2 linked regions of the Homo sapiens genome follow. The protein of the gene in region 1 purifies or fractionates together with the protein of each later gene. This does not show direct contact. Each region holds a gene or a part of one and is shown on either strand. Other genes may lie near its edges.

Region 1 (4,284 bases):
GGCAAGGACCTTTGCCTTTGAGTGGGGTGACTGGGCTCCAAGCCGATCTAGCACACAGTAGGCCGAAGGCACAGGGGCCCCACCCAGTCTCCTTCCTGGCCCAGGCCCTGGGGGATTCAGGTCCCTGGGTACTCGGGAAGGGACAGCACAGCCTGGGCAGGTCCCCAGTGGCAAGACCAGGTCTGACCTTTTCTGGGATCTGTGGCCCATCAGGTGAGGCCTGAGGTCAGCCAGGAAGGAAGCGGGCAGGGCTGAACCAGGGCTGAAACCAGGACCCAGGAAGGGACAGCCTAGTGCCCAGGGAAGGGGCAGGTGGGGCAGGTGGCAGTTGAGTTTTACAGACCTTCTTTGATGACAAGTGGGGGAAAGAGCCAAGGCACGCCCCAGTGGCTGTGGGAGCCACCGCCTCCTCCCCTGTAATGGGCACCTCGAGGACCGACAGGCGCAGGGGCCAGGCACCAAGGGTCCCTCTCCAACCTGGCCTTTTGTTTCCACCCCTTGCTCTCAGGCACCCACCCACGGCCCTTCCTGGTATCTGGACCAGACCAGGTGGGTCTCAGCCCCACCTCAAGTGAGACTTCAGGAAGAACTTCCAGAGGAAACTGGAGGATGGCAGTGGGATGGACTGTGGGGAGGTCATTTGCAAACAAGGCAGCTTATGCCTGTGCCCTGGGCCTTCCAAAGTCCACCTGTAGGCTGCATCTTCCGGAAGGCCCACCCTGTAGCCTGGAAGGCACCTGGCTACAGTGATCTCTCTGCTGTGCAGGTGTCCCCTCCCCCAGGGCACCTTGCAGGGCCTTAGGGTGATATGGGGGCTTTCTGGGCCCCTGCCCACCTTAAAACTGATCAAGGTGGGAGGGTGGGGTGGGAGGCCACAGGGATGCCCCTGCTGCTTGACCTTGATGGGACCTTGACCCCTTGCTTTCCCCATATGCTGTTGGGCATGACTGCCCACAGGCCTGGTGGGCGTTTGTGAAGGGCTGGAGTCGGGGGTAGGGGGAGCTTATGGCTGCTGGGCACAGGCGTGGCAGGGCTGTGTGCCTGGCTTCCCTTTCCCCTAACCCCATCAGGCCCGGGCTGGCCGCCCACTTCTGTTCACCACAGAGCAGGGTTTCCCTGGGGACCAGTGGACTGGCCCAGCCCCACACCGCCCCCCAGCCCCTCCTGGCCACAGCTTGAGCTGGGAGGAGGGTGGAGGCTGGGCCGCCTCCTGGACCCCTGCCCTCCCTGCCCGGCCTTCCAAGGCCCGGCAGCCTCAGTCCACTGCTGGGCCTGGAACACGGAGCAGTGGCTGCCCTGCGAGGAGGTGGGTGTCCGGAGTGCTAGCCAGGGTGGGGCTGGGCTAGGGGGAGCCTGATGTCACCCCCATTGTAGGAGGGAGAAGACCAAGGATGAGAAGGGCTTTGGCTTCCCCAAGGTGACCCCCTCTTTGAGCCTAGGCATAGTGGTCTCCCGGGAGAATGGAGGGTCCCAGAGCTCTCAGGCTGTGGGATTTGGAGAGGGGAAGGGGGGCACGAGGAGGCAGTAGAAATCAGGGAGGATTTCCTGGGCAAGGCAGCCGCGGGGCTGGACGATGGGCGGCCGAGGTTCGGGCAGAGGAACTCCACTGGAGGAGTGAGGGAGCTGAGCTTGGAGGGCTTCAAAGGGGAGGTGACCTCCAGGGCCCCACGCTCTGGGATCAGGCTCACGCCATGGTTCCCAGCTCAAATGTAAGACTCTTTCCGAAGCTCCCACTGTCTCTCTCCGTCCCTCTGTGTCTCTACCTGCCCACACGCCCCGGTCCTGATGGCTCCAGTCTCCCCTGCAGGTCCTAGAGCAGCTCCAGCAGGATGGCGGCTCCAGCGTCTCTAAGGCCTGCAGGGGGTCCAGCCCCATGGGGGGCGCCCTAGGCCTCCGACAGCTCCCCATCTGTGCTCCTGCCTGCCGGCCATCCTCAGGCCACTCGCCATGGGCGGCTGCTTCTCCAAACCCAAACCAGGTACCTCCTGTCTTCTTGTCTCCATCCTTTCTCCTCCCTCCCCGCCTCCTCCTCCCCCGTCTCCCCCCCCTCCCCCTCTGCACTCGGTAGGCCTCCGAAGTAGGTCAGGCTATCCAAGAACCCGCTCGGAATGTTAATACGCTGCCGCCAGGAGGGGGTAGGGGGCCTGGAGCAGTTCCCCCAGCTGGCCCCTGCTCCAGTGGGTGCCCCTTTTTCTTTGGGGCTTTGAGTGTTGGTGGTGGGAATAACAGCAGGACCCTTCTTGGAAAAGGAAAGTCAGGGTTCCTCCTGTTGCAGGGTTGGGGAAGGGGCTATGCCCCCAGGGCCAGGGAAGGGGGGAGCTGGGGACACGCTCAGCCACTCTGTGACCTAGGGCATGCAAGTTACCCCTCTGAGCCTCTGTTTTTCTCTCTGCAAAAGAGAGGGCCTGGCCACCCTGACCTCTTAGAGTTGCTGTGAGGGTGTAGTGGGCAGATCCTGGCTCTCTTTGCCTCCTCTGATCCCCTGTGTGGTCTCGGGCTGCCTTCTTGGCCTTTCTGGGCACACTTCCCCATTTATACAGGAAATCACCATCCAACCTAGCCTGAGCTACTCCAGCCAGAAGTGGGAGTGTCCTGGGGTGCTAGGGGAGGCCTGGGTCTTTTCTCCACTAAAGACTCATGTCTGCGGAGCTCTCCCTCTGGCCCCCCACTTTCCCTCTTCTCTCCTCACAACACCTGGGGAGGCAGGAGTGTGCAGCTTTGTCACAGGTGGAGAAACTGAGGCTTAGAGAGACCTCAAGAGCGCAGCCAGTGCTCCACTCAACCTGCCAGGCCACGCTGCCCCAGCCAGCTCACCCCAGCCAGCTCACCCCAGCCAGCTCACCCCAGCTCCCCTTACCTGATACCCATCAGCTCCGTTACCTTGGAACTTGTGAGGCTTTTCTCCCTTTCCTGGGTCTAAGGGAGAACTTGGGCGAGGGAGGAGGGCTGTGATGACCCACCAGGCAGAGGGACCCACTTGCCTCTGCTCCAAGAAGCCACTCTTCCTCCCCCGCTCCTGTGCTGTGGACACCTAGGCCTGGGCTGGATCCCTCTCTGCCTCAAAATGTGCCTTGGGCAGATGACGTCCATTGTCTCCCCCTAGCAGTGGGTGGGATGATGCCAGCTGGCCTCATACCAGGCGTCTGTGGCACCGCTGGGCTGGCAGGAGGCCCTGGCAGAAGATGCCACCTGCAGGTTCTTTTAAAGGACCCCAAATGGCTGGCCTGCCTGGGACCCGTGGCCCCAGGACTTCCAGTGTCGGGGGTGGCCACCCTCACCAAAGGCAGTCCTAAGAACTTAGGCAAATCCAGCCCTGCCCCTTTCTGGCTGTGTGGCCTTGGGCAGGTGATTTCCCCTCTCTGAGCCTCTGCATCCTCATTGTAAAGTGGGGCTGTTGTGCCTAGCATGAGGGCCTGGCACACCAGAAGCACTTGCGGAATTTTTTTTTTTTGAGACAGAGTTCACTCCTTCTCCCATGCTGGAGTGCAGTGGCGTGATCTCGGCTCACTGCAAGCTCCGCCTCCCAGGTTCATGCCATTCTCCTGCCTCAGCCTCCCAAGTAGCTGGAACTACAGGCGCCCGCCACCACGCCCAGCTATTTTTTTGTATTTTTAGTAGAGACGGGGTTTCACCGTGTTAGCCAGGATGGTCTCTATCTCCTGACCTTGTGATCCGCCCATCTCGGCCTCCCAAGGAATATTATTTGTTATCCCTTTTCTGAGCTGGGCTCTGTGCTGCCAGGCCTCCCCTGTGGGGCTGTAGCCAGAGGCTCAGGCCCCAGGTGCCCATGCTGGGCAGGTCAGGCATGAGGCTCAGGGAATTTCCAGATATGGGAGTGACAGCATTTGGGGCCTGAGGGTTCAGCTGGGGTCTTAAGGGGCCACAAAGAGACTAGATCAAGCAGAAGACCTCTGTGCAAATCCTTCACTTTCTATCTTGCTCCACTCGATTCTGTGGCTCCGTGTGCATCAGCACCTGCTTCCTGGGTTCCCTCTGTGCTCCTGTGTGTCCTGTCTGAGTAGTTGATAAGAAGGTATCAGACCAGTCCCTCACCTAGCTCAGAGCTAGGAGGAAGTGCAGCTCTCTTAGCATCTGTTCACCTGCCTTTTATTAGGCCATAACTGATACCTAAAGGCTTTCCATCCTCACCATGGCTGCTAGGAGGCTCAGAGCTAACTGGTAAAACACTGCTGCCCAACTCCATCTATTGAGCTTCTACTCTGGGTTACATACAGTATTTCCTTCAGCATTCACTGTCACCAACGAGGTAGGCATTTGCTGTTC
Region 2 (3,656 bases), on another chromosome or scaffold:
TACTCTGGACATGTCATAGCTATGGCATCACATAGTATGTGATCCTCTGTGCCTGGCTTCTTTCACTTAGCATAGTATCTTCAAGGTTCATCCATGTTGTAGCATAGATCAGTGCTTCATACCTTTTTAAGGCTGAATAATATTCCATTGCATGGATAGACCACATTTTCCTTACCTGTTCGTCAGTTGGTAGACATTAAGATTGTTCCCACTTTTTGGCTGTTATTGCTGCTGTGAACATTCCTGTACAAGTTTTTGTGTGTGCAGATGCCGCCATTTCTCTTGGTCTATACCTAGGAGTAGAATTACTAGGTCATATGGTAATGATGTTTAAGCTTTTGGGGAACTGCCAGACTGTTTTCCAAAGCAGCTGTACCATTTTACATGACAATGATTTTAATTGACATCTTAATTGAAGGATTTAGAAAACAATGTTAAGATAAAAAAAGAAGGTGGCCGCCTGGAGCTGAGGTGGGCTCCCAGTGTGGGTCTGGGGAGGTGGAGCAGTGGGAGACCGTGCCAGTCCTCTGATTGGCTGGGAGAGAAGACGGCAAGTCCCAGGTCATCGCAGGGCGGGGAGCCAGGGAGTCACCAGCTCCAGGCTCTGCGTGGTGGTGCCCAGCGGAGGGGCCGGCTGAGATTCAGCCTGTACTCCCCGCCCCAACTGCATACCCAGGAAGCTGTGGGCAGGCGAAGGAGGTGCCTGGCATTGGCCTTTACACAGCCTCACAGTCATTGAGCAGTGAGGAATAACGTACGCAGTTCACAGAGGGGAAAACCAGGCTTCGGAGAGAAGGGCCTGCCCCACTTAGGAAGTGCGTGGGGCACCTGGTTTCTCCAAATCAGAGAGCTGCTGGTGTCAGGCAGCACTAGGCCAAGACCCGAGGCAGAATCAGGGCTGAGCTGCCTTCGCGTGTGCGTGTGTGTGTTTCCTATCTGACCGTTGCCTCTGTCCCACCAGCCCCAGGCCATTTACTGCAAGGATGTTCTGGACATTGAACAGTTCTCTACGGTCAAGGGCGTGGAGCTGGAGCCTACCGACCAGGACTTCTACCAGAAGTTTGCCACAGGCAGTGTGCCCATCCCCTGGCAGAACGAGGTGGGGGCCTGCCCTGCTGGTGGGGTGGGCTCCAGGAGGCTGCCCTGGGGACAGCTGTCACAGCCGCCTGCTCCTCAGCAGATGGTGGAGACCGAGTGCTTCCAAGAGCTGAATGTCTTTGGGCTGGATGGCTCAGTTCCCCCAGACCTGGACTGGAAGGGCCAGCCACCTGCACCTCCTAAAAAGGGACTGCTGCAGAGACTCTTCAGTCGCCAAGTAAGCCCCAGCAGCGGCCTACCTGGGCCCCTAACCTGGCTCCAGGGGACGGTGGGTGGGAGGCAGAGCCGGTGCCCGCATGCGCTGGGAGTGGGCGTCCTCCAGTCCTGTTGTGGTGCCCAGGGTCTCTGGCCTCATTCCCGCCTGTCCCCCACCCCTGGCTGGGCTCATGGCCTCTTTTCTCTTTCCAGAGGTGAGCAGTGTGGGCTCCCCGTGGGTTGGCCTTGCTGCCTGGCCTCGGGGAGCCACGGGCAGCCCTTCCATGGCAAAGGCAAGATGTGGGAGAAAGAAGTCTGGTGCCCGCCCCACTCCCCCTGCCCACTGCTTTGATCCCCTGCACCCTGGCCCCTTCGAGCTGCCAGCTTTGCTTCGCTTGTCTCCCCGTGCCCTGTCTCTGCCAGCCCCAGGGGAGAGGGCTGGGCAGAGGCCTTGCCCTGGCAGACCGTGGGATCTACCCAGCCCCCTTACTTCAGTCTGTTGCCGGCAGCCTCTGCAATGACGCCCACCCACGTGTGGCCTGAGCTGCTGCTCCAGGCTCCTTGTGGAGAGGCCCCTCCCCAGAGTGCACCCCTCAGGCAGCTCCTGGCCTGCCCTGGCAGGGTCGGCCCCATGTGACGTCCCTCGTGGTTAATGGCACCTGCTCTGCCTCTCTCCCTCCCTCCGTGTCTTCCCCGTCCCTCCAGGATTGCTGTGGAAACTGCAGCGACAGCGAGGAAGAGCTCCCCACCCGCCTCTAGCCCCCAGCCCGAGGCCCCCACCAGCAGTTGGCGGTAGCAGCTACTCCGAGCGCCGTTTACAGTTTTGCACAGTGATCTTCCCCATTGTCCACTCAAGTCGTGGCCTGGGGAACACAGACGGAGCTGTCCCCAGTGTCCTCCGTCCCTCAGCCCCTGGCCTGGCTGAGTTTGGCAGGGCCTGGGCCATCCCTGGGACAAAGGTGCGTCCCTTCAGCTCTTCTCCGTGGAGCTCGGGGCTTTCTGTATTTATGTATTTGTACGAATGTATATAGCGACCAGAGCATTCTTAATTCCCGCCGCAGACCTGGCGCCCCCGCCTTGGCTCCTGGGGGCAGCCAGCCCTGGCTGGGAGAGCGGGAGCTGGCAGAGGAGCCACTGCCAAACTCAAGGCTCCTCTGGCCCAGCTTGGATGGCTGAGGGTGGTCACACCCCTGAGCCTTCAGCACTGTGCTGGCCACCCCGGCCTCTGAGTAAGACTCGTGCCTCCCCCTGCTGCCCTGGGCTCAGGCTGCTACCCTCTGGGGCCCAAAGCTGTCCCTTCTCAGTGCTTGTCAGCGCTGGGTCTGGGGCCTCTGTATGCCCTAGGCCTGTGCCAAAGTGGCCAGAGATTGGGCTGCCTGTGATACCCATCAGCCCACTGCCCCGGCCGGCCCAGATAGGTCTGCCTCTGCCTTCCAGCTCCCACAGCCTGGTCCCTGATACTGGGCTCTGTCCTGCAGACACCTCTTTCAGAAACGCCCAAGCCCAGCCCCTAGGAGGGGGTGGGGCATCCCTGGTCAACCCTCAAACATTCCGGACTCCCCTCATAACAATAGACACATGTGCCCAGCAATAATCCGCCCCTTCCTGTGTGCGCCTGTGGGGTGCGTGCGCGCGCGTGTGTACCTGTGTGGGTGAAGGGGATAGGGCGAGGCTGTGCCTGTGCCCCAGGTCCCAGCCCTGGCCCTTCCCAGACTGTGATGGCCATCCTGGTCCCAGTGTTAGGGTAGCATGGGATTACAGGGCCCTGTTTTTTCCATATTTAAAGCCAATTTTTATTACTCGTTTTGTCCAACGTAAGCTGCCACATGTCTCTGTGTGAATAGTCCGAGCACAAACCTGGCTAGCCGCCCCTGCCTGCCTCTTTCTTGCTTCCGGTGCTCCAGGGGTCTTCCTGCTCCCCTGGCCCAGCTGGAAGCGGGAAGGGATTGGAGGTGGGCCTGGAGGGAAGCAGGGTGTGCCCTTCCGAGGCCCAGGAGCCCCCAGGGCTGACTCTGAACTAGCCTCTCCAGACAGCCAGGCTTTGGTAGCCTTTGGGCTCACCCAGTGGGTTTCCCAACTTCCTAAATGGGATGGGGCCTAAGGAAAGAAGCCTTGGGTACCCACTGGGATGTGGGTCTGTTTCTGACTGCTGGTAAGGCGGGCCCCGTTGGTGTCCTCCCCTCCAAGGCTAAGGTGGCCTGGCTGCCTAAATGTGGACGTAAGAGTAGGGTGGGAGCTGTGTAAGGAATGTCTGCCCCAGGCCTGCGTTACCTGGACGCCAGCCATGTACGGGCCCCGGGCTGAGGCACGTGCATCATATCCACCCCTCTGTTTTGCCCTTGACACATTATGGGCAAAGACCT

Evidence for each region.
Region 2: the proteins of AIFM3 (region 1) and GRK6 purify together in Homo sapiens (affinity purification with mass spectrometry; one large-scale study listed by BioGRID and IntAct). This does not show direct contact.

The regions. Positions count from the first base shown.
Region 1 is NC_000022.11:20,965,998-20,970,281, forward strand, and holds the start of AIFM3 (apoptosis-inducing factor 3), read left to right. Parts: upstream 1-1,257; 5' UTR 1,258-1,306; intron 1,307-1,807; 5' UTR 1,808-1,947; coding exon 1,948-1,978; intron 1,979-4,284. UniProt on the Homo sapiens protein: Induces apoptosis through a caspase dependent pathway. Reduces mitochondrial membrane potential.
Region 2 is NC_000005.10:177,439,739-177,443,394, forward strand, and holds the end of GRK6 (G protein-coupled receptor kinase 6), read left to right. Parts: intron 1-175; exon of another isoform or gene 176-293; intron 294-961; coding exon 962-1,099; intron 1,100-1,180; coding exon 1,181-1,315; intron 1,316-1,506; coding exon of another isoform or gene 1,507-1,512; exon of another isoform or gene 1,513-1,615; intron 1,616-1,996; coding exon of another isoform or gene 1,997-1,998; coding exon 1,999-2,052; coding exon of another isoform or gene 2,053-2,089; 3' UTR 2,090-3,153; downstream 3,154-3,656.